7 linked regions of the Homo sapiens genome follow. The protein of the gene in region 3 purifies or fractionates together with the protein of the main gene of each other region. This does not show direct contact. Each region holds a gene or a part of one and is shown on either strand. Other genes may lie near its edges.

Region 1 (3,930 bases), on a different chromosome or scaffold from region 3:
GCTTTGGCACTGGATGGTCCCCTTGTGTGGGCCAAGGATGACTGCCCGTCTGCTTTCTCCCTGTCCCCTTATCAGCAGAAAATGAACTCCGCAGAGCTCTCCTGTCAACTGAGGCACACACCATTCCCTTGTAGGGCAAAGGCTTGCGATTCCTTGTAACAATATTTCATAATTTATATATTTGATTAAAAACCGGAATCTGGGCCAGCAGCCTGCATACTCTAACATGTTGGGATCATTAGCTGCTTGTGTCACTCTTCTATTTTAAAACTTTCCATATTTGAACTCATGGAAGTACATCCTTCACATTTATTAAACTTTCCCCATAAAAACAGTTTAGTAAGTCTCCATCATCTTTCATAGAATTAAAAAAAATAAGGCCAAAATAAAACCCTCTGGACATTTCCTTCAGGGAATATCATTTTATTTAGGCCTTTAAAAACATTTGCCTTATCTTGCCAGTAATTAAAAAAAATTAATACAAATGAGAATTTTAGTGGCATTATAATTACTTCAAGATGAGCTGTGCCACTTGGCTTCTCTCCTGGCTCTGCTGCAGCTCTGTCCAGGCCTCCTGTGTGAGCTTCCGTTCCCCAACCCTGCACAGTCTTAGTCTCTTGGATTCTTTGGGTCAGTTCTCTTCCAGCTTCTCCAAGATTGCTTCTTCTCCATGCTTTGCTCCTGTTGCTCTCACAGGGACTTTTTTAAAATAAAGGGGACTGCTTCATGAGATTTGGGTGTGGCTGTCTTTTCTAATCCCTCCCCCTTCCCCACAGTGGTTGGCCCACGATGAAGGTATTGCCAATCAGAGTACCCTGCCCTCTGGGCACAGAGATTGGTCAAGGGATAAGCATAGGACTGACCCTTGTTGGCTGATCAAAGTTACCCCTGGGAAGCTCCAGAAAGAGAAGCTCCTTTTTCATGGGCTCACTGGCTCCAAGGACAAAAGTGAGCCCAGCTGCCACTGGTGGCTGTGTTTATGACTATCTGGGTAAGCCTACCTAAGAATAAAGCCAGTGTGGAGGAAGACAGAAGAGAGATGGAGAAAAGAAGCAGAGACTTAACTTGTGATTTGAACTACTGCATCCAATTGTTCCTGAAGCTAGCCCTTCTTCTGCACTTTCTGACTAGAAAGCAGATTCCAGAAAGCAAAACCCCTCTCATATTTTTTCTTTTCTTTTCTTCTTTTTTTTTTTTTTAGGTTTAAACCAGTTTTAATTGGATTTCCCTCACTTGCAACAAGGAAGACCTGAATAATATTGCTTCTGTCTGTATGTCCAAATACTTTCATTTTTCAAGAAGCAATGTTATACCAACGTCAGAACAAAGGAACACTTTATGCTGATCCTTGCAGTTTCCATTATTAGAGACCCAAAGGAATCAGACCAGGAGATCGTTTTGCTTTAAACTAGTAGAATCTGACCTAAGGCAAATATCACTTGAGAAAAAGGAGAAAACACATTTCTTCCTTCAACAGCGTCATCCCCATTCTTGGCAGAGAGAGATGTGAATGACCAACAGCCATGCCATTGCATAGTTTCATCTTTCATGTAACTTTTTCATATTTGAAGCCAAACATTTGGAGCCAAAGCCTGATAACCCAGCGAGTCAAGTGCTCATGTCACTATTGCTTGTGTCTCCATGGGACAGGCTTGATTGAAAATTGCTAAGACAATATTTTTAAAATGTTCTCACCACAAAAAATAACTATGTGAGGTAATGGATATGTTAGCTTGATTTAGCCATTCCACGATGTATACATATATCGAAACACCATGTTATAGACCATAAACATATGCAATTTTTATTTGTCAACTTAAATCCAAATAAACTAGGAAGTGTAATGGCTTCAGAAATGTGTAATTCACCCAAGCTACAACATGAAACATCTTGGGTATCCGTCACATTGTTTTTGGTTATAATTGACAAAATCCCCACTAATGAAAAGCTATATGTTGAAGAAATATCTCAAAATGAGGAAATGTACCACCCTACATAGAAAATAAGAAAATCAATTGTCTCATGTAGCAAGCAGTCCAGAGGTTAGTTCACTGTCTCCATGACATAACTTAGTACCTGGGCTCTGTTTAACTCTAAGCAGCATCATGGAAAGCTTATTGGCTTGGTTCGCTTGTCTCCTTAAGGTTCTAAGATGGTACCAGGAGTTCCAACACAACAACAGCCAGATTAAGAAGGAACCCCTTGAGAATGGCTGATTTCAAAGATGGGGCAGGAAAAATACAAGATGGGTATGTAGCACGTTATTGTGCCAGATGTAAAATGTGTTTAAAGAATGATGGGCCATGTCAAAAGGACATAGCAACCAGTTTGAAGGAGCTTTCTTTGGCCATAATTTGGGACAATTTGAGCATTAAAATAAATAAGGATGGTAATCAATTATAAACTATTTAATAAAATAGAAATCAATAACTCCAAGCTGATGTAAATATGTGAATTAATAAATGGGGAGAAGATAGTGCTTTTCCTTATAGTAGAATGCTAATAAACACTAAAGAAATGATTGAATTAGAAAAACCAACATTTGGCAACTATCATAATAATAATTAGTTCGATCAGTAAACGTCAATGAATACTAAGAATGAGTGAGTGGAATTTTGATGAAGAACAGGACATTGACATAGTCTCAAAGTCCCTAAACATACTTATTAAATACAAAGGACAAAGGAATGACTTTACAATGGAAAAATCTGGCTGATACTGGCATTATCAAATGTTCAAAATTCATGTCAACAGTAATGGAACAAATCAAAATCCTGTATCATCTGATTGGATGCAACAGAAAGAAAACAACATCACTTCTGTGGTATTCCTTCCAAAAAATGCATAAGCTGAATCTAATTTCGAGGAAATATCTGACAAACCTAATTTAATGGATATTTAACTCAACAACTTTAAATAACCTTTAATCTTCTAAGATGTCAAGGTCATGAACATTCAGGAAAGAACAAAGAACACTTCCAAATTGAAGAATAGACAAGATAACTAAATAGAATGAGTGATCTTAGACTGAATGTTTTTGTTATAAAAGACATTATTGGGACAGCTGGTGACACTTGAATTGGATCTGAGGATTACATGGTAGAAACACATCAGCGTTAACTTCCTGATTTTGATGGTTGTATTGTGGCTATGTGGGAGAATGTCCTTATTTGTAGGAATTACACACGAAAATATTCAAGAGTGATAAAGCATTGTGTCAGCAACACCCTCTAATAGCTCTTTGTTCTCTTCTTGTAACTTTTTTCGTAAGTTTGACATTCTATCAAAAGAAAAGAAAACAACAGCAGGGCTATTTACTGCACAGTATCTCCTTTCATTAAGGAAAAACACTTTTCTAAGACCCTCCTAAGGCGGAAGCCCCACTGGCTGGTAATAGAGGCGCATGGCCTTTCTCCAGCTGCAGACCAGGTTGGCAAAGCCAATTTACATAAAGGGGAGTGGGCTCTTCTCTCAGTCCAGTCGTTTCTCTCCATCCTCCCTTTGTCTCCATCCCCAAAGTCATATCTCACTTTGAACATTTTCTGCTCAGACTGACAAGTCTCCCTGACAGGAACTCACCCTCTCCACCCACTGCTTCCTTGCCACTAGGAAGAAGGAAGTGGGGTGTGGTGGCAATGTGTAGGCTGCCAGCAGTGTCTACCTCAGTCTGAAATTTTTATATTTGACCTTGGCCATTTTGGAACACAGTGCCATCAGCAAAGACGAACCATCCCAGAACCCCAGGTTGTTTGTTCTTTCATTTAGTTGCCAGGATTTGTACTAAGAGTTGGGGAAATAAAGATAATACGATTATTCTTTAGAAGTTCATAGGGGAAGGCTTTCATGAATAAATAATTATAGCACAATAAAGGCCTTGGAAGAATTACTGTAAGCCTGGGATATTATGAACTTACAGATAAAGGGCACCTA
Region 2 (3,930 bases), on a different chromosome or scaffold from region 3:
AGTGAACAGGCAACCTACAGAATGGGAGAAAATTTTTGCAACCTATCCATCTGACAAAGGGCTAATATCCAGAATCTACAAGGAACTTAAATAAATTTGAAGAAAAAAACAACCCCATCAAAAAGTGGGCGAGGGATATGAACAGACACTTCTCAAAAGAAGACATTTATGTGGCCAACAAACATACGAAAAGAAGCTCATCATTACTAGTCATTAGAGAAATGCAAATCAAAACCAAAATGAGATACCATCTCATGCCAGTTAGAGTGGCGATCATTAAAAGGTCAGGAAACAACAGATGCTGGAGAGGATGTGGAGAAACAGGAACACTTTCACACTGTTTGTAGGAGTGCAAATTAGTTCAACCATTGTGGAAGACAGTGTGGTGATTCCTCAAGGATCTAGAAAGAGAAATACCATTTGGCCCAGCAATCCCATTACTGGGTATATACCCAAAGGATTATAAATCATTCTACTATAAAGACACATGCATATGCATGTTTACTGCAGCACTATTCACAATAGCAAAGACTTGAAACCAACTCAAATGCCCATCAGTGATAGACTGGATGAAGAAAATGTGGCACAGATACACCATGGAACACTATGCAGCCATAGAAAAAGGATGCACTCATGTCCTTTGCAGGGACATGGATGAAGCTGGAAACCATCATTTTCAGCAAACTAACACAGGAACAGAAAACCAAATGCTGCATGTTCTCATTCATAAGTGGGAGTTGAACAATGAAAACACATGGACACAGGGAAGGGAACATCACACACCAGGGCCTGTCAGGGAGTGGGAGATTAGGGAAGGGATAGCATTAGGAGAAATACCTAATGTAGATGACGGGTTGATGGGTGCAGCAAACCACCATGGCACGTGTATACCTATGTAACAAACCTGCATGTTCTGCACATGTATCGCAGAAATTTAAAAAAAAAAAAAAGTATCACCCCATCCAAACTGCTGGTACCCTACCTTCTTTCAGGTCAATGTTGGCATTCTGAGTCAATCTACTTCTCATTTACTTTTCACTCATGCTCTTTCATTTTCAGTTCATTTACTAAACACCTATAATTTCTTCATTCCAGCCCTCAAAAAGTTCATTTTCATAATGATAACTGAAGCTCTTAGAACAAAAACATCAAGTACCAGCAAAAGATGCACTTGCTTTATTTGAACAGGCATCACAGTATCAGAAAAATCTCAGCACTGGGGAAGGTATACAGGCTGTATCACTCCCTTTTCACTGCTTATCAAATCAAATACTCCAAGCCTCCATTTCCAGGCTTGCCAGCAAGGCTTCCTTCAGGGCCCCTTAGCTTACTATTAATATTATCCAGACACACCGACTTCCCCATATGTTCTATTGCTCTGTTCTTGTGGAACTTAAGACTGTTTCCCTCTAGAGACACCTTAAGTGCCACCTCCTCTCCAAAACCTTTTCCTAAACTCCCTCAGTACTCTGGACCTCAGATGCAACATCCCTTACCCCTAGTTAATCTTATTTGTCCCCTATCTCCCCTATGAGCTGGGCTTATTCAGACTCACCTGTTTTCAACTAAACTTTCCAATTGAAGACAAGCGGCAAAGCAGCTGAATTAAATGAAAAGGATGATATATTTTTCCAAGCTAGCTATTTTCAAATATTTTTTACTACCAGAATAAAATGAAGTACTTAGGATATAGCAAAGCCTCATTGTTAGTTAAATGGAAAAAAAAAGTTGGTCCATTATAATTTGAGGGAATGCCAAGATGTTTCAGAATACATTCTACATAGATAAACTAATAAAAGAGACAGATAGCATGATGGCCTGTGGGGCCCAGGGCTGCCCAAGACCTACGGATATAGTTTCCTTGGTCCACACAGCATTTTCAGAAAATGTAAACTGAATGCCAATGTTCAAAATTCCACCGAATTTTTACATAAAATGTGGATTTCCAGATTCTTTTTAAAAACTGGACATTTTGGCAACACTTAGACTACGTGCCTCTTAACTAAGGCTAAACGGAGGCAAGCCTTTCCAGACTGCCATGGTGCTACGACTATTGAGCTACCTGACCCTCTTCAGCTACCTGCCTGACCTTCGAGTCATCTGAATCTGTGATGCCTGGTATAGTGAGTAAAGGAGACAGAAAAAGAGATTTACGGGCAAGGCACAGTGGCTCACGCCTGTAATATCAGCACTTTGGGAGGCCACGGTGGGTGGATTGCCTGAGGCCAGGGTGAGACCAGCCTGTCCAACATGGTGAAACCCCATCTCTACTAAAAATACAAAAAGTAACCGGGTATGGCTGCATGCGCCTGTAGTCCCAACTACTCAGGAGGCTGAGGCAGGACAATCACTTGAACTAGGAAGGTGGAGGTTGCACTGAGCCAAGATCGGGCCACTGCAATCCAGCCTGGGCGACAGGCGAGACTCTGTCTCAAAAAAAAAAAAAACCAAACAAAACAAAAAACAGATTTAGGTCTTAGTGGCAACTCTGCCACAAACCAGCAGAATAACCCTCAGCAAGCTTTTAGGCCTCAGGTTTCTTACTCCTGAACAAGTATTAAAAGTCTGGTCCTGAGAGTTTATGAGGCATCCACTGAAAAGCAACTGCTGAATTTTCCTTCCTAATTCACACTAGAAGTAGTGACATAACAAGCCTCAATATGAAATGTTCTCAAAGCACAGTTAAGACAGCTGACACCACATTCCACTGTTCAAAGAAGTTACAAATGGCAAGCTGTTTTATAAAGCTTTTGGTGGACTTTAAAAAAATTTTTTTTTTTTGAGACACAGTCTCACTCTTTATCACCCAGGCTGGAGTGAAGTGGTGCAATCTCAGCTCAAGCAAACTCCATCTCCCTGGTTCAAGCGATTCTGGTACCTCAGCTACCCAAGTAGCTGCGATTATAGGTTTGCACTAACATGCCCAGCCAACTTTTGTACTTTAATATTTTTATTTATATATTTGATATTTTTAAATATTTATATTTTTTTAGTGGAGACGGGGTTTCACCATGTTGGCCAGGCTGTTCTCTAACTCCTGACCTCAAGTGATTTGCCTGCCTCGGCTTTCCAAAGTGCTGGGATTATAGGCATGAGCCACCATGCCTGGCGGACTTTAAAATATTTCTAATAGAAAAGTTAAATCAACTTTCTTTATGGCTATAAAAGTACCCATGTCCACTAGATAACTTGGAAAACACAAATAAACAGCACGTATGATTTGGATAGAGTTTTCATGTTTTTGTCTCACCAGCAGTTTACTACAATGGAGGAACTCCTCTAAGGGCATTACTATAACTATGTGAACTTTAATAATGATACTAATAAAAGAATATTTAATAGACATCTATTGAGAACTTATGCTCCTGGTATTGTAAGTAATGTTTATATGCATTACCTTTTCATTATTTAATCCTCACAACAACTCTATAAGGGCATAGGAAAATTATTATTTTTCTTTTTATTTTATGGAGATAGCACCTGAGGCTCAGAGAGGTTGAGTAGCTTTTTCAAAGTCACACCGCTGGTATATGCCAAAGCTATGGTTCACAACTAAGTCTGTCTGGCTATTAACAGCCACTACAATGTATAAACTCTTAAAGCTATAGAAAAATCATGCCTGCTGTGGTAAAAATTTGAAAACTTTTTAAAAACCATAGAAAACTTTTTAAAAACAGTAAATGGAAAAAAAAGCTAACATTTTGGCTTTCTTTTCTACTCTCCCTTTTTTGTCTTTAATAATTCAGATGATACTAAATATATAATTTCATAATCTGTTTTCACTTTTAAAATCAACATTTTCTCTTGTCATTAATGCATTTGCAGTCTATAATTTAATAGCTTTATTTATTAGATTAACATTAGGTTTTTAGTATCCCTTATTATAAACGATGCTCCAGAGAACACTTTCGAGGAAATCTGCTTGCATTT
Region 3 (3,531 bases):
TCTAGGCATAAAAAATTTGGTTCGCATTCTAACTTTAGGCAGAAGACATCTACAGGTGGAATGATTTCGGATGATCTAACAGGTAGTCCTTTGTTTTTGCCATACTAGATGGAACTCCATCTCCTTAAAAAATGTGTTCATTCTACACTATATCATGAACATCCCTGTACTTAAAGCTTTACACTACAACTTTTACTTTCAGAAACGTGAAGTAATTTCCCCACATTCCCCCAGACAGTAAAATGGAAGAGCCAGAACGCTAGCTGCCAGCCTTCTTGGCCTTTTAAGCAGGGCTTAAGCTCTTGTCTCGCTGCTGCTCCTACCATGTACAAAGCCCTGCCCATCCTCAGTCTCTCCAAGCCAATACTCAGGCATGCTGCTTCTCTCCAGCTAAATGCTTCCTCTGAGGAGCCTGTTCCATTCTCTCCTCCTTCTCTCCCATAGTCAGCCACTCTGGGTTCCCTCAGCACCGTGAGCATTCCTCTGACTCGCAGTCTAGTGGGGAGAGACAGGTCTACATCTCAGCTCTTCTAGAGCAAGGTTCCCATGCTGTTTCCTCCCTCCAGGCCTGCCACGCCACTGCTTAACCCAAGCTGCACACCAAACAATGATCACGTTTGAATTTTCTCAAACGCTCAACAGATCCATTCATGTAAGTTGACAATCTGTTACAAGATGTAAGTTACAGCTAATATTTCAGCCATCCTCATGTTCTACTCCTATGGGCAAGACACAGAAAGTGGGTCAACCAAAGTCAATCCTACCATTATATAAGGTGAATTGCTCAAATAGAATTCTCACTGACCTATCCTGGAAAGTTCTCAGTTAAGGGTCAAAGGCTGCCGGTGCCCCTCTCTGGAAGCTTCTGTCTTGTTTGAAAGCTTAAACTGGCCACCAGCCCAAACCTGATTTCCTATAGCAGTTTTTAAACCTAGCCTGCAAAAGAATCATCTGGAATGCTCATTACAAAATGCAAACAGGGCCGGGTGCGGTGGCTCATACATGTAATCCCAGCACTTTGGGAGGCCAAGGCAGGTGGATCACATGAAGTCAGGAGTTCAAGACCAGCCTGGCCAACATGGTGAAATCCCATCTCTACTAAAAATCAGCTGGGCATGGTGGCGCATGCCTGTAAATCCTAGCTATTTGGGAGGCTGAGTTGGGAGGATCACTTGAACCCGGGAGGCAGAGGTTGCAGTGAGCCGAGATCACAACACTGTACTCCAGCCTGGGTGACTGCAAACAGGCCACAGTTTTATATCCACAGTTTTATATCCCCACCCACAGGCCACCAGATCCGGGTTATTCCTCGTTATGTATAATGTATACCATGATTCTTTCCTGCGTCGTGTGCTCTCCTCACCTTGCCCTCATCATACCCTGTTCAGAACTCTTAAAATAAAGCTTGGAACAAGCCTGGATTCTGACCCCCCCTTGCCTAAAGAAGACAGCCCAAGTTTCTTAACTGTAATTGTGTCTCTTCACAATCTGCCCCTGACTTCCATATGAGCCCCTTCAGGAGCCAGATTTCCAGGCTGCTTTGGAATGAGGAGGAAGAAGCCAACAGGAAGTAAGGCATCAGGAGACTTGGGTTCGGGTACTATGACTGGCTGAATAGATGGCCTCGAACCTCAATCTCCTCATTTACAAAATATGGAGAAGAGCATCTGTCCCAAAAGGTGATTGTGAGGATGAAATGAATGCAAGTGCTTCACAATCATAAAACACTATCCAGTATGAAGCGGTCTTCACTGAAAGAAAGTCATTTGAAACTATTCATTCAAATACTTGGCTATCACTAAATTAACCCTTACCAAAATTCTTCACTTATAGAAATGAAATAGCAAAAACATTCCAATTCCACATTTGATTTTAACTTGTTCCTTTCCAGTTAAGCTGTTACCTCTGTTGAGGCTGCCCAGTTCTCCCCAAGATACTCCACATTTGCTTTATGATTCATAAAGTACTCCTATGTATATGTAAGCTGAGGCTCTCACTTGATTCTGCTAACCAGAAGTAGCAAAACAGACACCCCACTGTATAGGTGGATAAGCAAAAACTACGAGGCTAAGAGCTCGGGAGCGAGACTAACTCCACAGCCCCCAACTAACTGAGCTGGTAACTTCAAAACCACAGCCACATTTCAAGCCATGAACACTGAAGGTTTTGTTTTTTCAAAGTTCCTAAGAGCTTACGTGGAGTGCTTCGGCCACTCGAAGGTACTTGGTCTCCTCGGTGGTGAGGCCCTTGTGGGGTGTGTAGCCAGCATCTCTCAGCCCTGCCTGTCGCTCAAAATGCTGAATGCTTTCCTGGGTCTGTTCTGGGAACAGAGGAGATGACAGTCATGCCCATTCCCCTCTCCCATCACAAAATAAGGAGGACAACATGGATATCTACTATTCTCCCCAGAAGCAAGAGACCACACTGACCATTCAAAGAAGAGGAGACTTTCCCCAGAGAGGCACCACAGCAGTAATTCTGAACCTCACACAAAGGCTCTCTAGCCAGAAGGAAGCCTTCCCTCACACCAAGCTGAAGAGGTTATTCCTAAAGGGACAGCTGAAGAACCTTGAGGACAATACTCCCACCCTCCTCTTAGTTGTACATGGTGACATTTTCTTTGTATTTAGAAATGCAACATGGGGCTGGATGCAGTAGCTCACACCTGTAATCCCAGCACTTTGGGAGGTCAAGGCGGGCGGATCAAGAGGTCAGGACATCCAGACCATCCTGGCTAACAAGGTGAAACCCCATCTCTACTAAAAATACAAAAATTAGCTGGGTGTGGTGGCAGGCGCCTGTAGTCCCAGCTACTCGGGAGTCTGAGGCAGGAGAATGGCGTGAACCCGGGAGGCGGAGCTTGCAGTGAGTCGAGATCGTGCCACTGCACTCCAGCCTGGGCGACAGAGCAAGACTCCATCTCAAAAAAAAAAAAAAAGTTACATTGTGCTAAAAGAACAATGAATAAGTTTTGTAACACTGCTAGAACACATTCTCAAGCTTGTAAAATAAAAGTAGTGTTGCTGATTCAACAGATGTGAATAAGAAAATCAAAGTATAGGTGGTGCGTGATGGCTCACACCTGTAATCCCAGCACTTTGGTTGGCCTAGGCGGGCAGATCACGAGGTCAGGAGTTTGAGACCATCCTGCCCAACAGAGTGAAACCCCATCTCTACTAAAAATACAGAAATTAGCCAGGCGTGGTGGTGGGCGCCTGTAGTCCCAGCTACTCCAGAGGCTGAGGTGGGAGAATTGCTTGAACCTGGGAGGCGAAGGTTGTGGTGAGCTGAGACCACAGCATTGCACTCCAGCCTGGGTGACAGAGTGAGACTCTGTCTCAAAACAAAAAAAAAAAAGAAGAGAAACCAAAGTAAGAGTCTGGACCTTTGGTTCTTGGTGAATTCACTAGGAATTGCCCAGGACAAACTGATGCCCTCCTGGAGAAGATAAACAAGGGCTTCTGACTTCAAAAATGAGCCAACCAAGGAGAACCTCTATGTACCTTACCCTGGTAGGGGCACAACTGCTGA
Region 4 (4,661 bases), on a different chromosome or scaffold from region 3:
CTGAGTCTCCATTTTACATGCCCACCGGCAATGTACAACAGTGCTGCTTTCTCCAGTATTTACTGTCTTTTGTATTATACCCATCCTAGTGGATGGGAGGTGGTATCTCATGGTTTTGATTGGCATTTGGAGACCATTCTCTTCTGAGGTCACCTATTTTTCCCCTATGAAGAAAGAGTTAGGCTTTTTGCTAAGAGTAAGAGGGGAGGTAGCAATAAACAGTGGAGTGGAGGCCGGGTGTGGTTGCTCACGCCTGTAATCCCAACATTTTGGGAGGCCAAGGCGGGAGGACTGCTTGAGGCTAGGTGTTCAAGACCAGCCTGGGCAACATAGGGAGACCCTGTCTCTACAAAAAATAAAAAAATTAGTCGAATGTGGTGGTGCGCACCTGTGGTCCCAGCTACTTGGGAGTGGGGAGGATCACTTGAGCCTGGGAGTTTGAGGCTGCAGTGAGCTATGATCACATGGCACACTGTACTCCAGACTGGGCGACATAGTGAGACCCTGTCTCAAAAAGAAAAAAGTGGAGTGGAGCAATTGGGGGTAAAATGGTGAAGTCTGAAGCAGTCACCAGGGAGGATGGGAAAGAGCACTGAGCAGAGAAACCTAGCAGGATGGTAAGACCAAGCCCAGAGAAAGCTGGAGACCGTAAGTCTTTAGAGGTACCCATCTGGTCTCCTCTGTGAGCTTTTCTACCCCAGGAAAGAAGTGTGCTTTTGTGTATGTGTGTGTGTGTGTGTGTGTGTGTGTTTTAAATGTGATCTAACACACAGTTGACTTATATAATTATTTCATTAACTGATCTCCTCTACTAAGTCTATTCTGGCTAAATTCAGACAACACTCATCATACCCCTCTTGTGCATTCTTCAGCACGTACACAACATGTACTTTTTTTTTTTGAGATGGAGTCTCACTGTGTCGCCCAGGCTGGAGTGCAGTGGCACAATCTCGGCTCACTGCAACCTCTGCCTCCCCAGGTCAGGTAATTCTCGTACCTCAGCCTCCTGAGTAGCTGGGACTACAGGCGCACACCACCACGCCCAGCTAATTTTTTGTATTTTTAGTAGAGACGGGGTTTCACCATGTTGGCCAAGCTGGTCTTGAACTCCTGGCCTCGTGTAATCTGTCGCCTCAATCTCCCAAAATGCTGGGATTACAGATGTAAGCCACTGCGCCTGGCCAATATGTAACATTTTTAACTTTTTGTAAAACCAGAGAATATTTTGAAATGTGTCCGAATGCCCTGCCTAGATTCTAGACTCTGTGAGGCCCCAGCCTCCTTTCCTATGCATGACTTACTGTTTAATGTAGTACACACAGAAGGGATATCATCATCATAATAAAGGTCCTCACTTTCCTTCACAGTTTCATCTACCCCACAATGACTCCCAGGAAAAGGAGGGTACTGTTTCAGACTTCCCAGCTCCCGTATATTAGGTGGAGCCAAGTTCTTGCTGCAGCATACGGGCACGCTTTAAAATTTTCAAATCATTTTTTAAAAGCTACAAGCTTGACAGCTTTGGGTTTTTATGGCTACTTGTTTTCTGAAGTTCACAGAACTTTATCATTTGGATCACACACTTAAAAAAATCACTTGCAAAAATCTCTTTAAAGATGAATATGCTTCCTCTTCAAGAGAAACAGACTAGCGGGTAGAAGAAAAAGGACCCGTCTAGAGTATTAATAAATAGACTGATATTCACACAATGGATTAAATGGATTAAAGTCCATCCCACAGATGAACTGTTATATTAATAGAATCCAAATATACAGTTACATCCTCGACCCTGAAAGCAGTTTAAACGGGTGAAATTCACCCAGTGCTCACTTGAAATGAGTACTCTAAAGTTTAAAGCACCTATAAACTGCCCTCAGGATTCAATCATTTTTCCATTCCTTCCGGCATTATATACTTTGATGTTTTAATGTTATTAGCCCACAATACACACCAGTTTCAGAAACTCAGTTTTTGTCCTCTAAGGGCTTTTAGTCCTCCCAAAAAAAGAATAGGGCAAAAGCAAGGAAGATCATGAATCTGGTTTTCTAAAAGCATTATTACAAGACTGCTTTATAAAATTGTAATCCCCAGCTGCAGAGTTCCGCAGATGGCTTGAAAGTGTCTTACATGCAAATAAATAAAAACAAAAGGCCACTTATGCGAGCAGAACACAGCGTGCTCGATAGTCATCTTAAACCGAGCAGGTAGGTACTTTATCAGAGGCAGACAAGGGAAACGTCACTTATTTAGAGTTCACCGCACGCCTGGATAAAAGTCCTCACTAACAAAATCCCTGCCTTTGTGGATTCTGTGTCGGAAAGGGAAACGATAAAGAATACGGTTTGTGACAGCACTACTCTCAGGAGACGAAGGAGAGATGCTAAGATCTTGGAAAGGAGAGAGAATAGGAAGAGTCGGAGGGGAGATCTCCTCTCAGTAAAACGGCACCCACAGCAGTCAGACTTCAGCTACGAGCAAAATCGAGTCCGTGCACCTCAAAAAAGAGAGGGAGGCAGGGAAAACTTTCCCTCGCCTCTCCCCATCCTTCCCTCCTCCTCGCAGGAGAGCACATTAGCTGAGGTGCTGGCGGGGCCGGGCCGGGGACCCCATCCCTCGCCCCGGACGCAGCGCCCGCAGGGACTGCCCGGGAGCCCGAGCGAGGGAGGCGGGAGGTACAGGAGTAACGGGGCACTCCCGGCCCGGCCTGCGGGGAAGGGAAGCAGGGGCAGGGCCGAGGGGGAAGAGGCCTCCGCGAGCTCGACCCCGCGCCCACACGCTACCTGCGAGGTCAGCTGCTGCCGCGCCGTCCCGCGGGACCGCAGGGATCTCCGAAGCTCCAATGGGCGCAGAAGTGCGAGCGAGCGGCGGTGCCCACCGGCAGCGAAGAGGAGGAGCGCCAGGGCGCCGGGCCCGCCGGGTCACGTGGCCCCGGCCGCCTCACGTGACCCGGTGCAGCGCGCGCCCGGGACGCTACCCAGCCGAGCATCCCGCACCGCCCCGGCCCCGGCCCCGGCCGAAACCCTGCTCTTCGGGCCCTACAACCCGACTTCTTTAGAAGCCGATTGGCCGTCTCAGGCCCGCCCCGAGGCCCTGCCACTGGAGTGTCCCCATGAAATCCGGTGGCTGCTGCCGGGACTTAGAGGCTTTTGTGTCTGAGGAACCAGGAACGCGCGAGGCACGGGCTCCTGCTCTGCTCCCCGAGATGGCTTGGCTGTGGGGAGGGTCGGCCTACCACCCCAGAGACCTAGGACGGAAAAGCGACCGAGAAACTTGGCTCCCTGCCCACTCTAGAGCGCGTCTGGCCCCGGGGCACCACCCAGGTGGTGCTGCCTGGGAGGAAAGGCGGCGGAGCTGGGACTAGTTTGTTTTTACTGGAGACGCGCCTCCCTCCCTCCCCGCCCCTCACTTCCTGATTGAAAGTACCTGAGGCAGGCCAGGGACTAGGGAAGGTGGCAGCTGGACAAAGGTATGAAGGAAGGACGAGATGAGGCACAGGTCCTGGTATTGGAAAGAGGCAGAGGTACCTCGGAAGCATGCCATAGAGGTTAGACGGGACCTAAGAGGGCATCTGGTCCAACCGGATTCGTGTTACCAGCGAGTAAACTGAGGCCAGGAGAGGGACTGCTACGAGCTGCTCCAGCCTATCACCTATAAAGACTACAGTCCCTTTGTAAAATACCATACAGCTCTCGGAGAACTCCCAGTTGGCGCTGCAGGATAAAATCCAAACTTGTTGGCATAGCATTCCAGCCACTTGTTCACTTACCTTTCCCATTTGAGCTCCTAGGAATAAACAGAAAAACATTTCATTTTCTAAATATCACCAGATAACTTCACTTTTGGTAACTTGAATTATTAAAAAAGTCCTACCGTCCCTCATCTCTTGCCACTTCCCCAACATTACTGGAGGCTCTGGCTACAAATAATTTGTTTTCCTTGACTACTCAACTTTCTTTGGATTATTTACTTTTTCTCTAAGTTTCTTTACTCCTTTTTGCTTTGTTCATTCTTTTGTCTGTATCTGAAATGTCCTGAATCACCACCTCCCCCACTTAAAGAAAACCAGGGCCAATGATTAAAAAAAAAAAAAAAGGTATTAAGAAACTAATGCAATAAGAGAATTGAGCTTAGTTCTGTATCTATTCTGAGGTCTCGCTCCTGTTGCACTAGTTCCTGAATAAAATGTTTTTACCACTTCAACTACTGTTTGGCTCTGGTTTTCTTCAACAGCCTCCAAAGTACACATCAGTTTCCTACTCATCTTTCAAAATCCAGGTCAAATGCCGCCTACTCTTGTCTTCCCAGCATCCTCTTCCCTGATTTTTTAGCAATTGAAGTTCATCCAGACAGTGTCAGCTGCAACTTCTTCCCTGATTTCCAGAATACTATATATATTCTGATACACCTCACACTGCCCAGAAATAGACTGCGCATTTCCTGTAAAAGGTGAATTGTCTATTGCTGTCTTCTCCCTTAGATTATAAACTCTTTGAAACAGGATTCTTCTGGGTTTAGAACAGCGCCTGGCATGTGATAGACCCTTAATACTCACTGAATGAAGTGGCTTGCCCAAAGTAGTGGCAGTTGAGTGAATTTACTAGAAGAGGCCTGTTTTGCTCAAAGAAACTAAAATCAGTTTCTTTTGGTTGCAACCCGATCAA
Region 5 (4,150 bases), on a different chromosome or scaffold from region 3:
CAGAAAGCAAGAATCTCCTATAGCAAGTAGAAGTGGTGATGAGGGAAGAGGCCAGAGTTGTTTAAGGCTCCCAAAGTCCTTATGGTCTAAAGGCTAAGATCCTAAAAGTGCTAGTTTAGTACTGGAAATCTGAAAACTCAATGGTTTTTCCATACTGAGACCCTTCCTTTAGCAGGATATAGCCTGGGCCCATCTCTTCCTCTGCCTATCCTTGTAGGACATGCTCACTCCAAGCTCTGGAATAGGTCTGTCTTTGGAAACCACTCAAACTAAGATGTCACTGACTGCCAGAGCATGGACCCCATTTCCAATGAGAAAACTTGTCCTGCTCTCCCCACCCAGCCCTGCCCTTCCACCATGTTATGCAAGTCTTCGGTTTCCAGACAATTCATGGCACTTTCCTTCTCCCTAACAGTTCCAGGCCTAGGTGAGGTGTGGTTGACAAGATGATCCCATTCGTCCTTTACACAAGCCCTCCCACACCCACAGGCACTTCCTCCTTCTGCCAAAACAAACTTTATTGCACCAAAAAGGAAAACAAAAAAAACAAAAAAACTTCATTTATATACAGTCAGATATAAAGACATCTCTTTGACTCCTGTGCATATATTTCCTCAACTCAAGATTAGGGCATAAAAGTCAGGCTGCTATGCCAGACATGCTCTGCCCTATGGCAGGGCCAAGGAGAGGATTGTCACTTGAAAGTGGGAACACTTAAATGGATGACAGACAACACTGGACCCACAGACCAAGAGCATTCTTCTAAGCCCTGGAGTAGCTCGAGGAATGGAAGAGGGAAATTGGAAGCAGGGTCCCTTTTCGATCTTCATGTGAAGAGACCCAGCCTCTTCAAGGGTATCCAAGATAAACTTCCGTTCCCCAAGCCCACCAATCCCTGTCCAGTTCCTTTGCTTCCTGCCCTCCCAAATAGGACATTCTCCTTTGTGCCCAGCCCCCCTTTGCACAGATCCTCCAAGGGGAGTCCCATGATCCACAAGGCAGAGACCTTCATAGCAGAGGGCAGGGCAGGTACACACTATCCTCTCCCTTATGCATGGCTGGACACTGACTGAGGCCCTGCATCACAAGAATCGCCAATACCCACTGGGAGCCATAACAATAAATCTGGAAGTACGGGGAGAACATATCAAAAAGGGGAAGGATGGATTCCCTTGATGCCCAGGATTACAGGGCACCTAAAGCACATTTTTTTTTTTCTGAGCCAACCAGCTAAAGGATCACTGCAGCTAAATACAGATAGAGAAGCAACAAAGCCAGGCAAATACCCATCAGAGACAGTGACAAGAGCAGCTGGGGGCACGGGGGAGGCGGAAGGAAGAGAAAGAAGGGGAGGAGCCTCCAGAGTCCCAGCCCCAACCCCCTCTGCCATTGGCTACCCTTGCTCCCCAAAAATCCCTGGGGTTGAAGTGAGGAGGACTACAGGCTGGGGTGAAAATACACAAGGACAGCCCAACAAAATACAACAAGGACTAGCATCAGTCTCCCCCTTACTCCACCCCCAAGAAAAATACCCTTATTGTGACTAGTATTTATGAAAATCTGTAAGAGACTATTCTATGTAGTGGCTCTAATCCCATATACACAGCAGCTGCCTGTGTTGGGAACTTTTCAAATCAGTGATTGCGGGAACAAACAGTATTTTCAGCTTCTTACGGTGCCATGCAGGCTTTACCAAGACCTTGGTTAAGTCCCAGTCACATTTACTTTCTGTCTTACATCTAGAAAAGGGTGAGGAAAGAGGGGAGGGGAGAAAGGTGCTCAGGTGCTAGGTAAAGCTTACTGATCAGCAGCCTAGACTCCACCACTGTTCCTTCTCTTTGGTCTGTCTAGAACAGTGACTATAAATTAGGAAAAACAAAATTATGCTGGCCTGTGGGAAATAATGGGGGAAGGAAGGCAGGGAGGAAAAGGGCATTGGGAAGCCCTGCTTCAAGACTGAAGACAGACAAATAGACAACCACCCAGACTGCTTAAGTGTCACAGACAGCCCCCACCCCAAGCTCCCTTCCAGGTATCCCCATAAATCATTTGGGCACACTCCCTCTTGGAATTGCAATTTCCATCTTCCACTTATCCCTAAGGAGCTGGCCCTGTGGAGAGGTGTGTTGGTTGTTTTGTTTTTGCCAAAGGCCCTCGCTCTAGGTGCTCCTGTAAAGGTACCTTGGCCCCTGATACGGGATGAATGGATGAACGAAGCCCCAGATGCTCCAGTGCCAAGGAGGTCAGACCGGGAACAGGCCCCCACTCCCACACCCTGGGATCGGAGCTTGCTTGGTTCTTGCCATCTTGCAGGATGACTTCGAGTCTGGAGGGAGATACACAGTGCCTCTCCATCCCTGGGGTGGGGGGAAGGGATTCTGCTGGGACTCTTGAGTGGGGGAAGGGGAGATGGGAGCAGGGTCTAAACCCTCAGGCTCCCATGAAGGTCTGTCTCTGTCCCAGATGAACTGCTATCAGAGTCCATTTCTGCATTCTCATTATGGAGCCTCTCCAGCACTTTCTGACGTATCAGTCCCAGGCGCATCAAGAGGGACTGGTAGTCAAAGTGGCCCCGCTTCTCTCCAAAAGGGTCCTGTGGGGAAAGGAGACAAGGGGATGGAAGATTCAAGTCTGGGTGGCTGATCCTAGAGAAAGCAACTTCGGGCCCATGTGAAATGAAAGCTCAACTTCTGAGCCATGGGAGCAGGAAGGCCTAACAGCACAGGCAGTCCCAAACAGCAGGCAAAATAACCTTTGCTTAAAAATATGACACCTGGGCCAGGCGCGGTGGCTCACACCTGTAATCCCAGCACTTTGGGCGGCCGAGGCGGGCGGATCACCTGAGGTTGGGAGTTTGAGACCAGCCTGACCAACATGGTGAAACCCTGTCTCTACTAAAAATGCAAAATTAGCCGGGTGTCGTGGCGCATGCCTGTAATCCCAGCTACTCGGGAGGCTGAGGCAGGAGAATCACTTGAACCCGGGAGGCGGAGGTTGCAGTCAGCTGAGATCGAGATCGCACCATTACACTCCAGCCTGGGCAACAAGAGTAAAACTTGGTCTCAAAAAAAAAAAAAAAAAAGACACTCTTACCGCCCCAAATAGGTGTAGCTTGGGCTAGAGTGAAAATGTATTGGTATTCCTCAAAAGCAAACCAATATCCGGAAGAAGGGACAATAAGGGTGAGATAGATAGGAATGAGAAATTCAAGACCAGAATTATAATTGTTAAGTATGCCTATGTTTTTAATTAACCTCATAAAAACCACAGAAGGTAAAAGTTGCTCTTTATTCTCTGTACTCAAAAATGGTAATCTGCTTTTCTAAGGTCAGAAGCAGGTCTAGAATTCAAGAGTTCTGACTTTCAGATAAGCACCTGTACTCCTCCCCAGGGACTCGTCACTCCATTCCCATCCAGGTTTCTGGGCATTGCTCCAGGGCCACCCAGCCTCGATCTTAGTCCTTCTTGTTCTAGATCAAAGATCCCTAAACGTTGTACAGAAAGGTTTAATTGTCCCCAAAGTCTCAAAAACAACTAGTTGAGTGGATGGTATAAAAAAGAGTTTAAAATACTATATAGGGACTTAGGCAGCAAAGCAGTGCAACAGCCCCCAAAAGGTACACAACTTTCCCTCTCACATTGTTTGCTTCTCTCACAAAAACTCCTTCCATACTTCTGCCCACACATTACCCTCATCCTGAGTGGGATGGCAGTGGATGCTAGTCACTGTCACTGGGACTACAGCCTGCACTTCTCCTTCATGAGAGTTAACTCCCTCAAGACTGAGCTCCACATTTACTACTATGGAGCTGTCAATTCTGCAAATCTTGTTTCTTTCATCCGTGGCTCCAGCTCCTCTAATGCTCCTCCTGCCCAGATGCTGTACTCCCTCCCATCCCTCATCACCAGTTGTTTTTCCTTTACACACTGATATTGCTAATGCTGTTGGATACCAGCAATTAGAATTCCTGATGGGGAACAAACTAGGACATATGTCATTGATATACTCTCAAAAAGGGTTTAGGAGACAACTTAGTCCTGAGCCAGCCCTGCCCTTTGTGCTTAAATGAGACAGGTGGGTGGAAAGTCCTTGAAAGAAGGAAGGGAAAACTACCATTTATAAGTAGCACTGGAGGGCATAAGTCATCTC
Region 6 (4,555 bases), on a different chromosome or scaffold from region 3:
TTAAAAGTGTACCTGAATCATTCACACCAACAATAACACAACGACACACTCTCCGGTGTGTTCCAAGTGTCCTGGCTGTGGCATGGTCTCAAAAAACTGCAGCTGACTGCACATGAGTGATTAGATAACACCTTGAACCCACCCTAAGATAGTCTGCCTTTCCCTTCTTTCCTGTCTTCCTTCTTTTCTTTCTCCCTCTCTCTCTTCTCCTATTTCTCTTTTATCTTTCCTTTCCTTTATCCCCCTCCCCTCCTTTCCTCTTTTTCCCTCCCTTCTCTCTCTTTCCACACACACATAACCTGTATATGCCAGGCACTATTCTAGGTGCTTCACAAATATTAATTCATTCCATTCTTATATCAACTTTGTGAAGTAGGAACTATTATCATCAACATTATACAGAGAAGGAAGCTGAGGTAGAGAAAGTTTAAGTAACTTGTCCAAGGTTGAGCATCTTGTCAACGTCATTTTACTACTGGCATGTGAAACAGGTGAGTTATATTTTTTAGAATATTAATTCTCATTAATTGAAGCCTTCCAAACAGGCCTAACTGTCCCCTTCTCTGACATACAAGTGGAAGTGTCATAGCTGGACGGAGCATCATGGTATGAAGGCAGAAAGGACGCGACTGGGTGTTCTTCTGAAGCTCAGGGAGCAGCTCTTGGGGAGAAAGTGTTTCCAGGAAGCGGACAAGAGTTCTGTTGAGCTGAAGAGCAGGGCAGCAGCCGGGGCGAGCGAGGCTGGAGTCATGCAGGGCAGAGCCTTAAATGCTAAGCTGGGGTTTGCTCTCGGTAGGACCAGCTAGCTGCCCCGAGCGGGGGCTGGAACCAGATCTCCCCCACGTGGACTCGCGGACAGGGCGGGGATCAGGACGGGGGCGGGGCCAGGGGAGGGGCGGGGCTCGGGGAGTGAGGCAAGACTGGAGGGCCTGGGACTCTCGGGTACCCGGGCCAGGGGAGGGGCGGGGCTCAGGGAGGGAGGGAGAGACTGGATGACCTGGGGCTTGCAAGGCGGGGCGAGGGGAGGGGCGGGGCGAGGGGAGGGGCGGGGCTCAGGGAGGGAGGGTGAGACTGTGGAGGACCTGGGGCTCGCGGGGTCGGGGCAAGGGGAGGGGCGGGGCTCAGGGAGGGAGGAGAGACTGGAGGACCTGAGGCCCACGGGGGCGGGGCCAGGGGCGGGGCGGGGCTCTGGAAGGGCGGGCGAGACTGTGGAGGACCTGGAGCTGGCGGGGGTCAGGGTAGGGGGGAGGGGCAGGGCTCGGGGTTCGGGGGCGGGGTGTTCACGGTGAGACCAAAAGTCAGGTAGGAGCCTCCGGGGTCCCTGCTGTGTCACCCGGACAGGCCGTGGGGGCGGGCAGGGGGGCGGGGCCGGGCCTGACCACAGCGGCCGAGTTCAGTCCTGCTCTCCGCACGCCACCTTAGGCCCGCAGCCGTGCCGGGTGCTCTTCAGCATGTCCTTCATCCCGGTGGCCGAGGATTCCGACTTCCCCATCCACAACCTGCCCTACGGCGTCTTCTCGACCAGAGGCGACGTGAGCAGTGGGGCTTTGGCGTCCGGGCGCGGGGAGGGAGTGGAGTGGAGTGGAGTGGAGTGGAGTGGAGTGGAGTGGAATGGAGTGGAATGAGGGGCGGGATGGAGGCTTGTGCCATTTTTCTCTTAAGATTCGTTCCGTGAGAGTGCCTATGGGCTCGAGTCCCGCCTCGTAACTTTCTAGCTGTGCACGTTGTTTAACTTTTCAGCCTCATTGTCCGCAGGTTTGCTGAGAATTAAATGCAAAATGAAATGAATCGTGTCACTCTCCCAGACAAGCAGAGCAAGCAGGATTCTGTTACCGGAAGCTGCAGCACACAGGCATGCTGCCTACTCCGAGGTGGTTGCGGTGTGTTTCTCTCGCCCAAGAGGCCAGGTCAGGGCTGGTGGTTCATCTCGCTGGATAGCCCCTAACCCTAGAACCCGGGAAATGATAACCCGGTATGCGTAGCAGGTCAGAGGGGCACGCGCGTTTCTTGGCTTAGAGTTGTGAGATCTAAGATGGCAAGTGTCTCTGCCTATAGCTGAAATTCTTTCAGCTCCTGGTGTGGGCTCCCTGGCATTCCCCTACTGATCAGAAGAAAGAGGGCAGGGAAACAAACTTTGACTAAGTCAGTGTAGTCTGATTGGTAGAAAGAAGTATTTGAAAACTGGGGGTTTATCAGCAAATAGATAATAAGAGGTTCCCTAGGTTGGAAAAGCAGATTCCCTTGGATTTGTTGATGATATTTTTGGCTTAGATTTCTGCTCCCAACTTTAAAGGTAAACTCCTGATTCATCTCTGTAAGCCATAGAACCCCAGAATCAGGAAATGTTTGCTAAACGAGGGGCCTGGCAGTTGGCTTCTTCTTGGAAAGTGGGGTTCCCTCCTTCCCCCATGGCTTGTCATTGGATGCAAGTGGCTGGCCTTTTGTGGGCCTGTCTGCGGTAAGTGCTTTGGTCTAGAAGAGTCAACTTGTGGTTTCACATCTGGCCGGGCTGACCAGATGTTGCAAGGATACAGAAAGTGGACACTCAATCCCCTGGAGGACACAATCTGAGGCACATTAAATCTTAACTTGTGATGGCCAACAACCTTTCTGCAGACAGAGCCCTCCCTCTGCCCTCCTCAAACACTTTGCCCTCGGCAGATGTGTCCTCCCTCACCTTTCCTGGGAGCACAAATCCATTAGACAGAAACATTTGTGAGAGGCAGGCACACCCCAGTAGGGAGCTCTGACTTGCTTTCTCAGGGGAATCGAATTAATATCCGTTAGAGTGTGGCTAGGTGTTTTCAGACACCATGTCCCGCTGTTTCAACATCAGAATGTGCAGGGCAGCCACTACAGATGTCTGGAAGAGAGAGCCCCATTCCGCTGTCCTCTGATACAGTGCTGGGGGTGGAGAGTTGGCCCTTTGGCCTTCCAGCTGAACAAGCCTCTTCTGAAGCTTTCTCTGCAGGCATTGGACATTCCAACCGTGATGGCTGCCTTGCCAGGCAAGACTAGTTGCCAAGGCAAAACCTCCCTTCCCCCATGTCAGCAGTCAGCCTTTCCTAATTTGAGTGGAATAACAATGAATCCTGCCATCACTTTATTCATTTTTTTTTATTCAGCGAATGCTTATGAACCCCAACTCTGGTCCAGATTTTGCCTGGGCTCCGAGTTGGCATCAAAGACACAGGAGACGCCTTCCTTCCATTTCTGGTTGATGGACTAGTAAGGTGTACAGGGGTGCTCTCTGTGAAGGTAGGGGTGGTGGCCTCTGAGAACGGGGTTGTAGTAGTGTGGAGCTGGTTTTGCCGGGTGCCTTGTTAAAGTCCCCGTGGTCTGGCTGTGCTGCTGCCTCCTGGCCTCTGCTTTCTCCAGCCACATTGGCTGCCTTTGAGTCTCTGAGATGTGCTAAGAGCAGCTTCCTGCCTTCAGGCCTTAGCACATGTTGTTCCTTCTGCCTGGAATACTCGTCCTTCTGCTCTCTATATGCTTGGCCCCTTCTCACTCTTTGGGACTCAGCTTAAATGTCACCTCCTAAGCACCCTCTCTGAATGAGCTCCCCGCTGCGGCCCAGCCTTGGTTATCTCTCACCACACCCTGTGTTTCCTTTTGCTTCTGGAGAGAAGGAACCACGTCACTGTTCCCAGGGCCTCAGCAGCCTTTGTGTAATGCTGGTACTGAGAAGATGCTCTCTAAATCTTTGTGGCATGAATAGCGTCTACCCTGTGTCTGTTCTTGTGGTGAGAGATTTACAGATATTAATTAAATTCTCACAATAAACCTACTGTGAAGTTATTGTCCCCATTCTACAGATGAGGAAACTGAGGTCCAGAGAGGCAAAGCATCATGCTCCAGATCTCACAGCCAGTAAGAGGCAGATATGGGGTTGATCCCCACATCTGTCAGCCTCCCAATCTGTAAGGTCCAGCCCTACGGGGCTTAGCGGGTTTTCTCCCTGTGTGCGGAAACGAGAGATTGTAAGAAATAAAGACACAAGACAAAGAGATAAAGAGAGAACAGCTGGGCCCGGGGCACTGCTACCACTGAGACACAGAGACCGGTAGTGGCCCCGAATGGCTGGGCACACTGATATTTATTGCACACAAGACAAGGGGGGCAGGGTAGGGAGGGTGAGTCATCCAAGTGATTGATAAGGTCAAGCAAGTCATGTGATCATGGGACGGGGGCTCTTCCCTCTAAGGTAGCCGAAGCAGAGAGGGAAGGCAGCATAAGTCAGCATTTTCTTCTATGCACTTATAAGAAAGATCAAAGACTTTAAGACTTTCGCTATTTCTTCTACCGCTATCTACTACAAACTTCAAAGAGGAACCAGGAGTACAGGAGGAACATGAAAGTGGACAAGGAGCGTGACCATTGAAGCACAGCACCACAGGGAGGGGTTTAGGCCTCCAGATGACTGCGGGCAGGCCTGGATAATATCCAGCCTCCTACAGGAAGCTGGTGGAGCAGAGTGTTCCCTGACTCCTCCAAGGAAAGGGAGACTCCCTTTTGCGGTCTGCTAAGTAATGGGTGCCTTCCCAGGCACTGGCGT
Region 7 (3,928 bases), on a different chromosome or scaffold from region 3:
CAGGAGGGAGAGGGGATTTCTGGAGGATCTTATCCAGGAAGTAGACCAGCTGGTAGGTCTTCCAGGGAGAGATGGCCACGGCTTCAATGGCCTTCATGTCCAGCTCCTCGGCTGCCCACAGTTGGGCTAGCTCTTCAGCAGGCTTCATGAGTGAGTCCCCAGGGGAGAGATCAGGGAGGTACGGGGGCCAGCCGGGGGTATTCAGCCATCGATCAAACTCAAAACCTGTTTGGGAGGAGAGAAGACACTATCAGAATTCTCTGGCCAGGTTACGGTCAACTGGTTTAAGCAACTCCCAGAGACCTCAAGTTTCTCCTCTCTCCATCCCAAACTCTTTCCCCAGCATTTAACATTACTTTCCCATGTAACTATTCGCTCCAGCAGGGTCCTAGTTATAACGACATCTAGAGACTGTGCCGTTTCGACCGTGAAAGTGCTTTTCGCTCCAAATTAGCACTGTGTTGTCAGAGCCAAGTTGGTGGATGCTCTATTCACGTGCACATTCTCCTACCGATCACAACCACACTGTACTTAAGCACCCAGGCTCTAGGACCAGGCTGCCTGGGTTCCTACCCCTGCTCTGTCATTAACCAGCTGGGAGGCCACGGGCATGTTACTTCACCTCTCTGCACCTCAGTTTTATCTATAAAGTGGGGGTGATAGGCCCTGCCTCCGTGATGGTTATGAGGATTACATGAGCAAATAAACATTAAAAGCTTAGCGTATCGCCTGATGCATAGTAAGTACTCTGGAATTATTAACTACCATTAGCTCCGGAGTCCCCGCATTAAAATGCAAGCCTCCAACCGAACAGTAGGTGCTGCTAAAGTCCTGACCAATCCTACTGTCAGAGGACGCGGACTTCATCAAACCAACAATAGAGTGACTCAAGGTTCAGGTCACAGCAAGAAGTGGGGGTATGTCTAATGGATTGTGTCTTCCATGACAGGACATTTTTCGTTTTTTCTTTGGAAGTGGTACCTCCCAGGCAGAAACTGGCGGCTGGGCACAGCGGCTCACGCCTGTAATCCCAGCACTTTGGGAGGCCGAGGCAGGTGGATCACCTGAGGTCAGGAGTTCGAGACCAGCCTGACCAACATGGAGAAACCCCGTCTCTACTAAAAATACAAAATAGCCGGGCGTGGTGGCGCGTGCCTGTAATCCCAGCTACTCGGGAGGCTGAGGCAGGAGAATCGCTTGAACCCGGCAGGCGGAGGTTGCGGTGAGCCGAGATCGTGCCATTGCACTCCAGCCTGGGCAACAAGAGCGAAACTCCATCTCAAAAAAAAAAAAAAAGAAAAGAAAAGAAAGAAAGAAATAAGGAGGGCCACTGGGGTTGCCTTCACTCAGAAGGCTGTAGGAGGGGTGCTGCCTCCGCTCCTGCCCTGTGAGTTTTAGCTTGGGGCAGTGGTGCGGCAGCAGTGGCAGCTCTCCAGGCAAGTTAAGGGTCTGACTGTGTGTCCAGGTGAGAGGAGAGAGTAAGGAAACAGACTGGGAGAAAATGAGGCAGAGAGGAGTGAAAAGAAGTCATTCTTGTGGAATAAATCCCAGGATTCTGGGTTTGCTTCCCAAAACGCCCCTACCTAGCTGACTCTGACCCAGTGTTTTCCCATCCACCACCATCTTTCCGAGTGTCAATGAGATCTCATTCTCTACTATTTTTTAGAAGCCTGTGGGCCAGTTCCTCTGCTTACCTGGAATGATATCCACTCTCTTTTTCTTAAGCTCAGGGAAATATTCCAAGTAGAAGTCCAGAAAGTCATCGGCTAAGATGCTTCGGAATTTGAATTCATGCACATAGGCCTGTGAGGAGGGAAAGCTCTTTAGACCCTCTCTGGCCCCGTGGGGAGTGGTGTCCCTCTGTGTCCTGGGTCCTCCTCCAACCCCTTACATCTTTCGCCCCCTGCCTCTACCCTTGATCAGGCCCAGTGGCTTTATCCGCTCCTCTTCCTTCTCCCCTCATGTGACTATACCTTGAGAAAACTGTCAAACTGATCCTGATCACCCACCAAGTGGGCCAGGTATGAAACAAAGCAGAAACCTTTCTCGTAGGGGGTCTCATTATAGGTGTCGTCCGGGTCAACGCCTGGCAGAGGAGAAAGCAGACAAGATTTGAGCTTTTGTAGCCTGTCACCCGTAACGTTCTTCTCTAGCTCCACAGTCAAAGACTAGCGATGGAAGAGATCAGAATTCAGCTTCCCCAGGGACAGCAAGGCCAAGAAGGTGTCCAGATCCTGGCCTCTCTCCAGATCTTGGACTCTCTCAAGGCCAAGACTCTCTCTCTTAAGATCTCTATCTCAAGGCCAAGATCTCTCTCCAGATATTGGCCTCTCTCAAGGTACTTCCAAGATCTCAGAGGGCCATTCACTGTGGATCTAATATGAAGACAGAGAAACCAGCCTTCCAGAGGAGCGGACACATTTCCTTAGTCCCAGGATACACTTTGTGTGGGTAGGTTCCATCAGCATTTCCCACTGAGCACCAAGCTGTGTCTTTTCCATCCCTATTGGTCACCACCTAAATACTCAACCTACCCTCCCAGATCAATGTTTTTTTTTTTTTTTTTTTAAGACGGAGTCTTGCTCTATCACCCAGGCTGGAGTGCAGTGGCACGATCTCAGCTCACTGCAACCTCTGCCTCCTGGGGTCGAGCGATTCTCCTGCCTCAGCCTCCCCAGTAGCTGGGATTACAGGTGTGCATCACCACACCCAGCTAATTTTTGTATTTTTAGTAGAGACAGGGTTCTCCATATTGGCTAGGCTGGTCTCGAACTCTTGACCTCATGATCCACCCGCTTTGACCTGGGATTACAGGCGTGAACCACCATGCCCAGCCAATGTGTTGTTTTTACAGCTGTTCCAGGCTAAAACTAATTACCCGTCTCTAAGAAATTCATCTGCAAACTTAACGGCATCAAGGAACATGAGCTTCAATTGCATAAAAAGGTTTCAGATTAGTCACACATGGAATGAAGGAAAATGTTAGGAAGTAAAAAGATCTGAATTTGGAGAGAGGACCCGGATCTCAGTTGCAGTCATGCACTGATTAGGTACATGACCTGGACAAGACACTTAACTTGTCTGGCACTCAGTCCCATCCTCTGTAAAATAAGGCTAATGCTTTTATTCTACAGAATCCACAGATCTGCCCTGATGATCATGAAGGAATGCGAAAGAGCCTGGTAAAACGATATGGACTTGTGCAAATGCAAAGCAATGGTGAAGTCATCACGAACCGCACAGACTGGACAGAACTCCTATCTGGCTGCAATGGCTTGGGTTCAGTCAGCCCAGGGGCCAGAGAATTGGCTACAAAGAGCTCTGGAGTGCCCCTCCCTCCAAATAAAGTATTCTAAGCGTGCACTGATCAACATGAAGTTCGCATTAACTTGGGGCTCCAAGCTCAATTGAGGGGAGTGGGTGTCAGACAGAGGAGCCTCCTGGACCTGGTTCAATCTTCACGCGGAGCTTGTTGAGTGGGTTTTCCTCTCCAGTGATGTCCATGTGCTGACGCAGCAGAGCCCGCCCCGTTGCAGCCTCCAAGCAGGTGTACGCAGCGCCTGGTGCAGAATCAAACGTAAGCCTCGGGAAAACGTCTGTCACCACATCCAAGTGTATTTTCCTGACAGAGACACTGTGCTGCCTCCTTGTGGCCTCAAGAAGAACAGCGACAGATACCTGAAGCTTAATAACATTACCCTCCTGGGGACCCAGGGCAAATAGGGACAGTTACAGAGAGCCTGACTCAGTCCCTAGCTCCCTGTTGCTGTGGGCTACAAAGGACTTGGTTAACTCAGGCTGTTGGTCTCTCTCCTAAGTGAGGACTGGGGGAATCGCACCTTTCTGACAGTTACCTTTCCTTATCAAAGTACTGTATTTTTATTTTATCTTATTTCATTTATTTTATTATTTTATTTTTTGAGACAAA

Evidence for each region.
Region 1: the proteins of KIAA1191 (region 3) and LMCD1 purify together in Homo sapiens (co-immunoprecipitation; one large-scale study listed by IntAct). This does not show direct contact.
Region 2: the proteins of KIAA1191 (region 3) and FBXO22 purify together in Homo sapiens (co-immunoprecipitation; one large-scale study listed by IntAct). This does not show direct contact.
Region 4: the proteins of KIAA1191 (region 3) and RCBTB1 purify together in Homo sapiens (co-immunoprecipitation; one large-scale study listed by IntAct). This does not show direct contact.
Region 5: the proteins of KIAA1191 (region 3) and UBE2Z purify together in Homo sapiens (co-immunoprecipitation; one large-scale study listed by IntAct). This does not show direct contact.
Region 6: the proteins of KIAA1191 (region 3) and FAH purify together in Homo sapiens (co-immunoprecipitation; one large-scale study listed by IntAct). This does not show direct contact.
Region 7: the proteins of KIAA1191 (region 3) and RNPEP purify together in Homo sapiens (co-immunoprecipitation; one large-scale study listed by IntAct). This does not show direct contact.

Annotation. Positions count from the first base shown.
Region 1 is NC_000003.12:8,571,146-8,575,075, reverse strand, and holds the end of LMCD1 (LIM and cysteine-rich domains protein 1), read right to left. Parts: 3' UTR 408-3,930; downstream 1-407. UniProt on the Homo sapiens protein: Transcriptional cofactor that restricts GATA6 function by inhibiting DNA-binding, resulting in repression of GATA6 transcriptional activation of downstream target genes. Represses GATA6-mediated trans activation of lung- and cardiac tissue-specific promoters.
Region 2 is NC_000015.10:75,906,795-75,910,724, reverse strand, and holds part of FBXO22 (F-box only protein 22), read right to left. Parts: intron 1-3,930. UniProt on the Homo sapiens protein: Substrate-recognition component of the SCF (SKP1-CUL1-F-box protein)-type E3 ubiquitin ligase complex that is implicated in the control of various cellular processes such as cell cycle control, transcriptional regulation, DNA damage repair, and apoptosis.
Region 3 is NC_000005.10:176,348,418-176,351,948, forward strand, and holds part of KIAA1191 (putative monooxygenase p33MONOX), read right to left. Parts: intron 2,321-3,531; coding exon 2,196-2,320; intron 1-2,195. UniProt on the Homo sapiens protein: Potential NADPH-dependent oxidoreductase. May be involved in the regulation of neuronal survival, differentiation and axonal outgrowth.
Region 4 is NC_000013.11:49,582,664-49,587,324, forward strand, and holds the start of RCBTB1 (RCC1 and BTB domain-containing protein 1), read right to left. Parts: upstream 2,896-4,661; 5' UTR 2,781-2,895; intron 1-2,780. UniProt on the Homo sapiens protein: May be involved in cell cycle regulation by chromatin remodeling.
Region 5 is NC_000017.11:48,925,407-48,929,556, reverse strand, and holds the end of UBE2Z (ubiquitin-conjugating enzyme E2 Z), read right to left. Parts: intron 2,594-4,150; coding exon 2,423-2,593; 3' UTR 501-2,422; downstream 1-500. UniProt on the Homo sapiens protein: Catalyzes the covalent attachment of ubiquitin to other proteins. Specific substrate for UBA6, not charged with ubiquitin by UBE1. May be involved in apoptosis regulation.
Region 6 is NC_000015.10:80,151,604-80,156,158, forward strand, and holds the start of FAH (fumarylacetoacetase), read left to right. Parts: upstream 1-1,395; 5' UTR 1,396-1,451; coding exon 1,452-1,532; intron 1,533-4,555.
Region 7 is NC_000001.11:201,999,534-202,003,461, reverse strand, and holds part of RNPEP (aminopeptidase B), read right to left. Parts: intron 3,561-3,928; coding exon 3,447-3,560; intron 3,412-3,446; exon of another isoform or gene 3,135-3,411; intron 2,087-3,134; coding exon 1,974-2,086; intron 1,804-1,973; coding exon 1,695-1,803; intron 339-1,694; exon of another isoform or gene 226-338; coding exon 1-225. UniProt on the Homo sapiens protein: Exopeptidase which selectively removes arginine and/or lysine residues from the N-terminus of several peptide substrates including Arg(0)-Leu-enkephalin, Arg(0)-Met-enkephalin and Arg(-1)-Lys(0)-somatostatin-14.